2 separate regions of the Homo sapiens genome follow, and region 1 is linked to region 2. A link means that fine-mapping ties the variant in region 2 to the expression of a gene that starts in the linked region. Tissue or cell type: adrenal gland. Region 2 holds a variant in brackets; the other region holds the start of a gene. All regions are shown on one strand. Distances are from middle to middle.

Region 1 (4,338 bases), 240 kb before region 2:
GTTATTTACCTGAGTCTTTAATCATATTAAATACTTCCTAACACTTTCTTGTGCCATCCCTACTCTCGGACTCCACCTGTCCTTTGAAGCTCAACTGAAATTCCGTATCTTTTCTGAAGATTGATATTTTCTCTTTATTTATTTATTTATTTTTTGAGACAGATCTCCCTCTATTGCCCAGGCTGGAGTACAATGGCGTAGTCTTGGCTTACTGCAACCTCTGCCTCCTGAGTTCAAGCGATTCTCCTGCCTCAGCTTCCCAAGTAGCTGGGACTACAGGTGCACGCCACCACGCCCAGCTAATTTTTGTATTTTTCATAGAGATGGGGTTTCACCACATTGGCCAGGCTGGTCTCAAACTCCTGACCTTATGATCCACCCATCTCGGCCTCCCAAAGTGCTGGGATTACAGGCGTGAGCCACCGTACCCGCCATTTTCTCTTTATTTTTAAAAATACTGACTGAATAAGCAATATGACACTGTATAAATGGGAGAAAATAAAAAATTGGAAGTTCGAATGAGAATACTGTAAAAGAGGCGGGGTGCAGTGGCTCACACCTGTAATCCCAGCACTTTGGGAGGCCGAGGCGGGTGGATCACGAGGTCAGGAGTTCAAGACCACCCTGGCCAACATGGTAAAACCCCGTCTCTACTAAAAATACAAACATTAGCTGGACATGGTGGTGCATGCCTGTAATCCCAGCTACTCAGGAGGCTGAGGCAGGAGAATTGCTTGAACCGGGACCTGGAAGGCAGAGGTTGCAGTGAGCCGAGATCGTACCACTGCACTCCAGTCTGGGCTACAGAGGGAGACTCTGTCTCAAAAAAAAGAAAAAAAAACTATAAAAGAGGAAGATTAAAAATATTCAATTCTATTTGATTTATCCTTAACAATGCTATTTATATTCACTTTCAAACCCCTAGAATGACAATGTTTACTAATTGCAGAACATAAGGCTTAAAACATTAAATGTTATGCCATAACTGAAAAAAGTACCAATAGCCTAAAATTCCATCAATAGAAGATCAAGTAAATAAATTGTAGTTCTAATACACAGGGAAATATTACACAGAAATTAGGAAGAGTGAGATCAATTCAGATGCAATGATCTGGAATCCTATCTGAGGGACTCTGTAAAGGGGTCAAGGGAAAGGGACTGTTCTGTTTTATGGGGGGAAAATGTTTATAAATGCATAGAAAACTCCTGGAAGAACAGAAAGTGTTAAGTGGTTGCCTCTCTCTGGAGCCTGGGACTTGGGGTAAAAGAGGACAGGTGAAGGAAAAGTCCATTTTATTTCTCATTTTACATCCTTTTAAAAACTATCACATATAACTTTTATACTTAGAAGAATAAACTTAAATTTAATGCTGAACACTAAGGGTTTAAATGGGTAGGCACATTTACATAAGCATTTTTTTTTTAAGGGCAGAGAGGAAAAAAGCATGAATCATCATACCCAGAAGTTACCTGAACAATGGTGAATCCGGATCTAAGAATAATATCTTGTATCTCCTCCTCTTTGTCAACAATATCTGGTTTGATAATGGCCAGAGTTTTTTCTACATATATCTGAGGTGGAGGCATTGATATCTCCATTATGGCTTTTCAGGGCACAAATTAAGAGTTTCTTAACAGGTATCAACTGCAATGACATGCATTTCCCCCCACCCCCATCGCAAATTCAATGTAATTATGATTAAGAATAGCAATAGTAGGTACTTGATTTTATTAACTGATGAAGGTAGAAACTGCCATGTTTTTCTATATACAGGGTCTCAATAATAGGATTCCTACTATGTCCAAATCGAGCCCCGGCTTTTCGTATACGATGTCACCAAGGCAGGAAGGACTATGGGCTCACATAACCAGAGGCCAAGGGGCGACCCGAAGGCCTGGAACCAGCAACAGCCCCAGGCAGCAGAGGGCGGTGGGGCGGGTGGTGGGGGCTCGAGGGGGCGGTAGAGCGGGTGGTGGGGGCTCGAGGGGACGGTGGCTGGTGGGCAACCACACACCATTACAGCGGCGGGTGAGCGGCCTCGGCCAGCTGCCTCTGTGAAGCGACCCTGTCCCGCAGGGACCTCTCTGTGCATAGGGTCAGGCTAATTGAAAAGCAGGGCCTCTAGGTCCGCGGGGACTTTCCGGGTTGCACCTGCAAATTCTGAATTTGACCCTCTCTAAGTACTCACCTCAGCGGCCGTCCTCATATGGTACAACTTGTTGCTAGGAGACCTGAAGCCCCAGCGTGGGGACGGTGGCTGCAGAGAGCCAATCCCAGCAAGGAACCTTGCAGCTTCTGGCCAGTTCGTTTTAACCAAAGGGAGCCAGCCAGTCACTTTTATTCTCCTTGTGAATCTTAGAGCACTAGATGTTTTCTGACATTTTACTCATAATTTATCTTATTTCATCCTTCTTCCCGTTTGAAGGATGCTTCAATTATCCCTACTCTATAAATGATAAGAACCCCTCCCCCAACCATTCCTTTCCAGGCGGTATATGTAAATGACCCGTGTCAGATACCTTCGTTTCACCAGATGATGCTGTGCCCTCTATGCCCAGCTTATCTAGTCATTAAAAAGCAATATTCCTATTGTGTAAATACATTTATTTATAGAGTAAAAGGCTTAGAAAAGATCTAATGGAATTGTCTTTAAATCAAGCCGATGGAACAAAGATGTGGGCAACATTTATGGCATAAATCCAAACCTCAGCTTCCCCTTTTTTTCTTTATATTATGTCCACATGCATCTTTGACTCGTTGGTTGTGAGTTAAGGTATTATTCTTGTTGGAAAAGAAAATGAGGACATGGCAAAGAAGTACCAGGATCCTCTCTAGGTCAGAGTTCCGGGAGAGATTCAAACTCTAGAAAAAGTCAGGATAGCAGCTCCAGGTTAGAAAACAGGTTTTCCATCATCCACTGGGTTAGCTGGTTCTCCTTCCAGACTACTTGAGCCTTTTCTTTTGTCTAACCAGATATTCAGTACCTAAAGGGTTAAGGAACACATAGCAAGCTATTATGAACCTTAAACACTAAAGTATTGCAAGTTTATTTTTTTGGCAAATAGACTCAACTATACTTTTTTCTTTAAAGTATGATGCTACCCAGAAAAGAAACCCACAAATGTCTTCTAGCTACTATATCTTATCCCCTAAAGATGGGAAAGTGTGAACGTACATTAATAACAACAGATGAAGCAACCAAAAAATACACAGTGACTCCAGCCTCTTTGGAGTTTAGCCCTTGACTTGAGGCTCTGGAAGCGGGAATTCCCATTACTTGTCTATCCTCAGCTCTCTTGAGAGCTCTTCACTGCTGCCTGCATTCCTAGACTACTTCACTATCAGAGCTGGACTTACTGAGGCTCAGGGTTTTCCAAACCAGCAGGCACATTATCAATCCTTCAGGGCCTTAATCACCTTTAAAAATAAACTCTGAGAACACAGTCACCTCGAAATCACCTTTATTCTCATAGGCGTTCTGAAATCAAGATTCCAGAGGCTACAGGTATCTGCATACAGTACCTGAATCTGCTCCAGGACTTCTTGCCGCATCTCCACAGCCATATGGTATACATGATGATCAGAGTCATTGTACATTACAGCATTTTGGAACATCAGCATCAGGTCTCGCAGGAATTGGGCCATGGTGCGAATCCGACCCTTAGAGAGATTTCTCTTCAGGCTAGTTAAGTCCATGGGTCTGCAGGTGGCCAAGAAAAAACAAAGAAAATCAAACCTTCATGTGGAACATATGATAACCTAACACGTTCTCTTGAAGAACTAACCAGTTCTTAATGAAAACAGTAGCAAAGATAACAACCCTCATCAGATAATAAAATAGCAACAGCAGTTAATATTTGCCTGTTTACAATGGGCCAAACACTGTATTTCTATACTAACTCACTTAATCCTCTCAATAAACCTGTAAGGTAGGTATCATTAATATCTCATTTTTTTTTTTTTTGAGTCGGAGTTTCACTCTTGTTGCCCAGGCCGGAGTGCAATGGAGCAATCTCAGCTCACTGCAACTTCCACCTTCCAGGTTCAAGCAATTCCCCTGTCTCAGCCTCCAGAATAGCTGGGATTACAGGCGTGCGCCATCATGCCCAGCTAATTTTTGTATTTTTAGTAGAGATAGGGTTTCACCATGTTGGTCAGGCTAGTCTCGAACTCCTAGCCTCAGGGGATCCACCTTCCTTGGCCTCCCAAAGTACTGGGATTACAAGTGTGAGCCACCGCCCCCGGCCTTATTATCTCCATTTCACAGATGAAGAAATTGAAATCTAAAGAGGTTAAGTACTCACTGAAAGGCACACAGCCTGAATTCCAATTCAGAG
Region 2 (4,398 bases):
TAAATGTATGACAGTAGTAGTATTATATTCATAAAGGTTAGTAGTTGGAGTGCAGTGGTGCGATCACAGCTCACTGCAACATTTGCCTCTCGGGCTCAAGCAGTTCTCCCACCTCACCCTCTGGAGTAGCTGGCACTACAGGCGTGTGCCACCACACCTAGCTAATTTTTCTATTTTTTGTAGAGAAGGAGTCTTGCTATGTTGCCTGGCTGGTCTCAAACTCCTGAGCTCAAGTGATCCGCCCACCTCAGCCTCCCAAAGTGTTGGGATTACAGGCATGAACCACTGCACCCGGCCAGAATATTATTATATTATATTTATTTATATGATATATATGAGTTATATGATATATAATTTATATGATATATATAATTTATATGCTCTATAATTATATAAGTCACACTTTAGTAACAAATAAGATCATATAGTACATATAGTTATATAATTTACCTTTTTTACTTAATTGTATATAGTGAGCATTTTTGTATGTAAATGTAAAGATCTGTCTCATCCTTTAAAATAGATGCGTTCTTTTCCACTACATGGATATATCATGACTAATCTAAAATTGATAGACATTTAAATCATTGCCAATATTTTCACTAATATGTCACAGTGAACATCCTTGAACATTTTTTACATTATTTATTGGAATAAATTTATATGTATAATTGCTAGGTCAAAGAATATGCACAATAAATTTGAAATTTTCTATCAAATTGCCCCCCACTGAGTTTTTATTCTTTAATAGTAGAATGATTCTTTTTTAAACAGAGTCTCACTGTGTTGCCCAGGCTGGTCTCGAACTCCTGGTCCTCCTGCCTCAGCCTCCCAAAGTGCTGGGGTTACAGGCATGATCCACCATGCCCAGCCTGGAGTGATTTTTTTTTTTTTTTCTTTTTGAGACAGAGATTTGCTTTTGTTGCCCAAGCTGGAGTGCAATGGCACGATCTCGGCTCACTGCAACCTCCGCCTCCCAGGTTCAAGCAATTCTCCTGCCTCAGCCTCCTGATTCGCTGAGATTACAGACACGCCACCACACCCAGCTAATTTTTTGTATTTTTAGTAGAAACAGGGTTTCACCATGTTGGCCAGGCTGGTCTTGAACTGCTGACCTCAGGTGATCCACCCACCTTGGCCTCCCAAAATGCTGAGATTACAGATGTGAACCACCGCACCCAGCCCTAGAGTGATTCTTTTAATGATTATTGGTTCTGAAGGTTTTTTGTTTCATACTATACAGAATAGGACAGTTTTAGAGATACAGGATTCAGAATTAACATCGCTAAAAGACACAGTTGGACATGAATTCACTTCTTTCATTCATTCACTTAAATATTTGAATGCTTACCATATTCTAGACCTGTTGTAGCAGTAAATGAGACAGTAGAGATCTCTGCTCTCATGGAGCTTTCATTCTAGTAGGTGAGTTGAATCAATAAAGAGATAATTACATTGATTAGGAAATTATATAATTATGTCTTTATGGACAAGGCATTAAATATCTTTTTCCCCTCCTACTGTAGAGTGGTGAGATCAAGTCGGTAGATCCCAGACTAATCCATGTGATGCTGATGGATAATTCAGCGCCTCAAAGCGAGGTACAGTAATGGACTGCATTCCTGAGCAGACTCATGAGCTTGCATTATCTTGCTGTGTGTAGATCCCTTATATATGTGTTTTCCATGGATGCCTTTTGAGTTGTTCAGCTTTAGCCACTGTACATTTTTTTGCTCTCTCCACAGTCTGTCTAATTAAGGGGGGATATTCTCAAGAAAGAGACCTAGTTTGAGCAAACCCTTTTAAGCATGACTATGTTCCCTAGTTCTTCTAAAGTGCAAGGCTGGTTTCTTCCTATATTCTGTCAGGACAGGTATATTTGAAAGATATAGTAGTCAGTTAAAAGTGCAATAAGCAGTAGTAATACTCGTGATCTACCAAGTAACAAGAAGTGAAGGATAAACTACGTCCACTTTTTTTTTTTTTCCATTCGGTGGCAGTGAGCTCCAACGGAGTCTGAAATTCTGTATTCCCAAGTAGAATCAATTCAAGCTGGTACCTAGTTCAGTGCTCAGCCCCCAGTGCATTGGTTACTCCATAATTGTTATGAACCAGCCCAACTCTTGGTTTATTCAGAATTAATATAGCCCCAAAAAAGATACATTAAAGCTCTCTGGGCCAGGTGCAGTGGCTCACGCCTGTAATCCCAGCACTTTGGGAGGC[C/T]GAGGCAGGCGGATCACCTGAGGTCAGGAATTCAAGACCAGCCTGACCAACGTGGTGAAACGCTGTCTCTACAAAAATACAAAAAAAAAAATAGCCAGGCCTGATGGTGGGTGCCTGTAATCCCAGCTACTCGGGAGGCCGAGGTGGGAGAATCGCTAGAACCTGGGACGTGGAGGTTGCAATGAGCTGAGATCGCACCATTGCACTCCAGCCTGGGTGATAGAGCAAGACTCCGTCTCAAAAAAAAAAGTAAATAAATAAAAATCTCTGCCTGAACCAATCGAGTAATTCTGTGTGAATTTCCTTCAGTTGACCAGCTGTCCACATATTCCTCACAGTATCTTGGCACCTCTGTAATATTGCTGTCGTTGCCACTCCTGCTAAGTATATAGTCTTTCCTCATCTTTATCCAGTCATTCTTGACTTCCTAAAACAAGATCAGAATAGGAAAAGAAAAAAAATTTTTTTTTTTTGAGGCAGGGTCTCGCTATCTTGCCCAGTCTGGTCTCAAACTCTCACCTAAGCCTCCCAAAGTGCTGGGATGACAGGCATGAGCCACTGCACCTGGCCAGGGTTAAATTTAAGAACTGTTTACTACATGTAATATTACCACAAACAGGGTAAGTCTCTTGACTGTGTTTGCATGCCAAAAACACCTGCTACTTTGATCGTGTATTGGTCCCCTTTTTTGTTCCTTTCCTTATTTCATTCCTTCATTAAGCATATATTGTATGCCAGGTACTGTTCAGCTGGCCAAATAGAACTGGGGAGTACTGGTCTCAATGTTGTAGGCTGCTTACTCACGTATGAGTAGCTCACTGTAAGTAGGACTTACATATAAGTTGTTTAGGGACTGGTAGTATGTTGCTGTGAGCCAGGCTCTGCAAGTTGGCTGGATGACTTATAGGTGGGATGTTTGTTTTTGTTTTTTTCTTTTTTTTTTTGAGATGGAGTCTTGCTCTGTCACCCATGCTGGAGTGCAGTGGGGTGATCTTGGCTCACTGCAACCTCCGCCTCCCGGGTTCAAGTGATTCTTCTGTCTCAGCCTCCTGAGTAGCTGGGACTACAGGCGCACACCACCATGCCCAGCTAATTTTTGTATTTTTAGTAGAGACAGGGTTTCACCATATTGACCAGGCTGGTGTCAAACTCCTGACCTCGTGATCCGCCCACCTTGGCCTCCCAAAGTTCTGGGTTTACAGGCGCGAACGAACCACCACGCCTGGTGATCTTTGGTTTTTAGCAGCAGATGTTGGGTCTTCCTTTTTTGGTATTAACATGATATTACTGTTTTCTTTGCTAGCAGAGTCCAATTATTTTTTATAGTTCTGCCAAGTTTTATAGTAACCCTTTTTAGAGATCCATGATCACCTCATCTCCTTTAAGTATGGGTGAATGAACAAGAAAGAACAGAGTTCACTGATTGTGATCTGCAACAGTGAAAACTGGGTGGTGATAGAGATTGAGAAAGAATTTAAAAGCTTTTAAAAATCAAAAGAGGCCGAGGCAGGTGGATCACCTGAGGTCAGAGTTTGAGAACAGCCTGGCCAACATGATGAAACCCTGTCTCTACTAAAAAACACAAAAATTAGCTGGGCGTAGTGGCGGGCACCTGTAATCCCAGCTACTTGGGAGGCTGAGGCAAGAAAATCGCTTGAACACAGGAGGCGGAGGTTGCAGTGAGCTGAGATTGTGCTATTGCACTCCAGCCTGGGTGGCAAGAGCAAAACTCCGTCTCAAAAAAAAAGAAGAAAAAAATCAAGGCCAGGCGCGGTGGCTCACGCCTGTAATCCCAACACTTTGGGAGGCCGAGGCGGCTGGATCACGAGGTCAGGAGATCGAGACCATGGTGAAGCCCCATCTCTACTAAAAATACAAAAAAAATTAGCCGGGCGCGGTGGCGGGCACCTGTAGTCCCAGCTACTCTGGAGGCTGAGGTAGGAGAATGGCGTGAACCTGGGAGGTGGAGCTTGCAGTGAGCCGAGATCGTGCCACTGCACTCCAGCCTGGGTGACAGAGCAAGACTCCGACTTAAAAAAAAAAAAAAAAGTCAAAAGAAAACAACACTTAGCAAACAGATAAAGTTCTTGAATGAAAGGTTTAGAGGCTGGGCGTGGTGGCTCATACCTGTAATCCCAGCACTTTGGGAGGCCGAGGTGGGCAGATCACCTGAGG

Alleles and levels. Positions count from the first base shown, and alleles are read on the strand shown. Sizes are in standard deviations (SD) of each study's normalised expression.
For the expression in adrenal gland of the gene that starts at base 2,247 in region 1, C is the high allele of the variant in region 2 and T is the other (large effect, 1.5 SD a copy in GTEx).

What was found. PIP is the estimated chance that this variant, and not a neighbour inherited with it, causes the effect. A credible set is the group of variants that fine-mapping cannot tell apart.
Region 1: NME5 starts here. The variant in region 2 is the best candidate, but not a certain one, in a credible set for the expression of NME5 in adrenal gland (GTEx, PIP 0.68).

The regions. Positions count from the first base shown.
Region 1 is chr5:138,137,182-138,141,519 of GRCh38, forward strand. It overlaps NME5 (NME/NM23 family member 5), which reads right to left and starts at 2,247. Exons shown (of 6, transcript NM_003551.3): 1 at 2,190-2,247; 2 at 1,471-1,604. The coding sequence starts at 1,599. BRD8 (bromodomain containing 8) reads right to left here. Exons shown (of 27, transcript NM_139199.2): 26 at 3,524-3,701; 27 at 2,589-2,985. The coding sequence ends at 2,893.
Region 2 is chr5:138,379,990-138,384,387 of GRCh38, forward strand. It overlaps KDM3B (lysine demethylase 3B), which reads left to right. Exons shown (of 24, transcript NM_016604.4): 6 at 1,527-1,601. Among named protein-coding and RNA genes, the nearest start is that of KDM3B, 30 kb to the left of the region's middle. The variant C/T (reference allele first, on the strand shown) is at 2,224.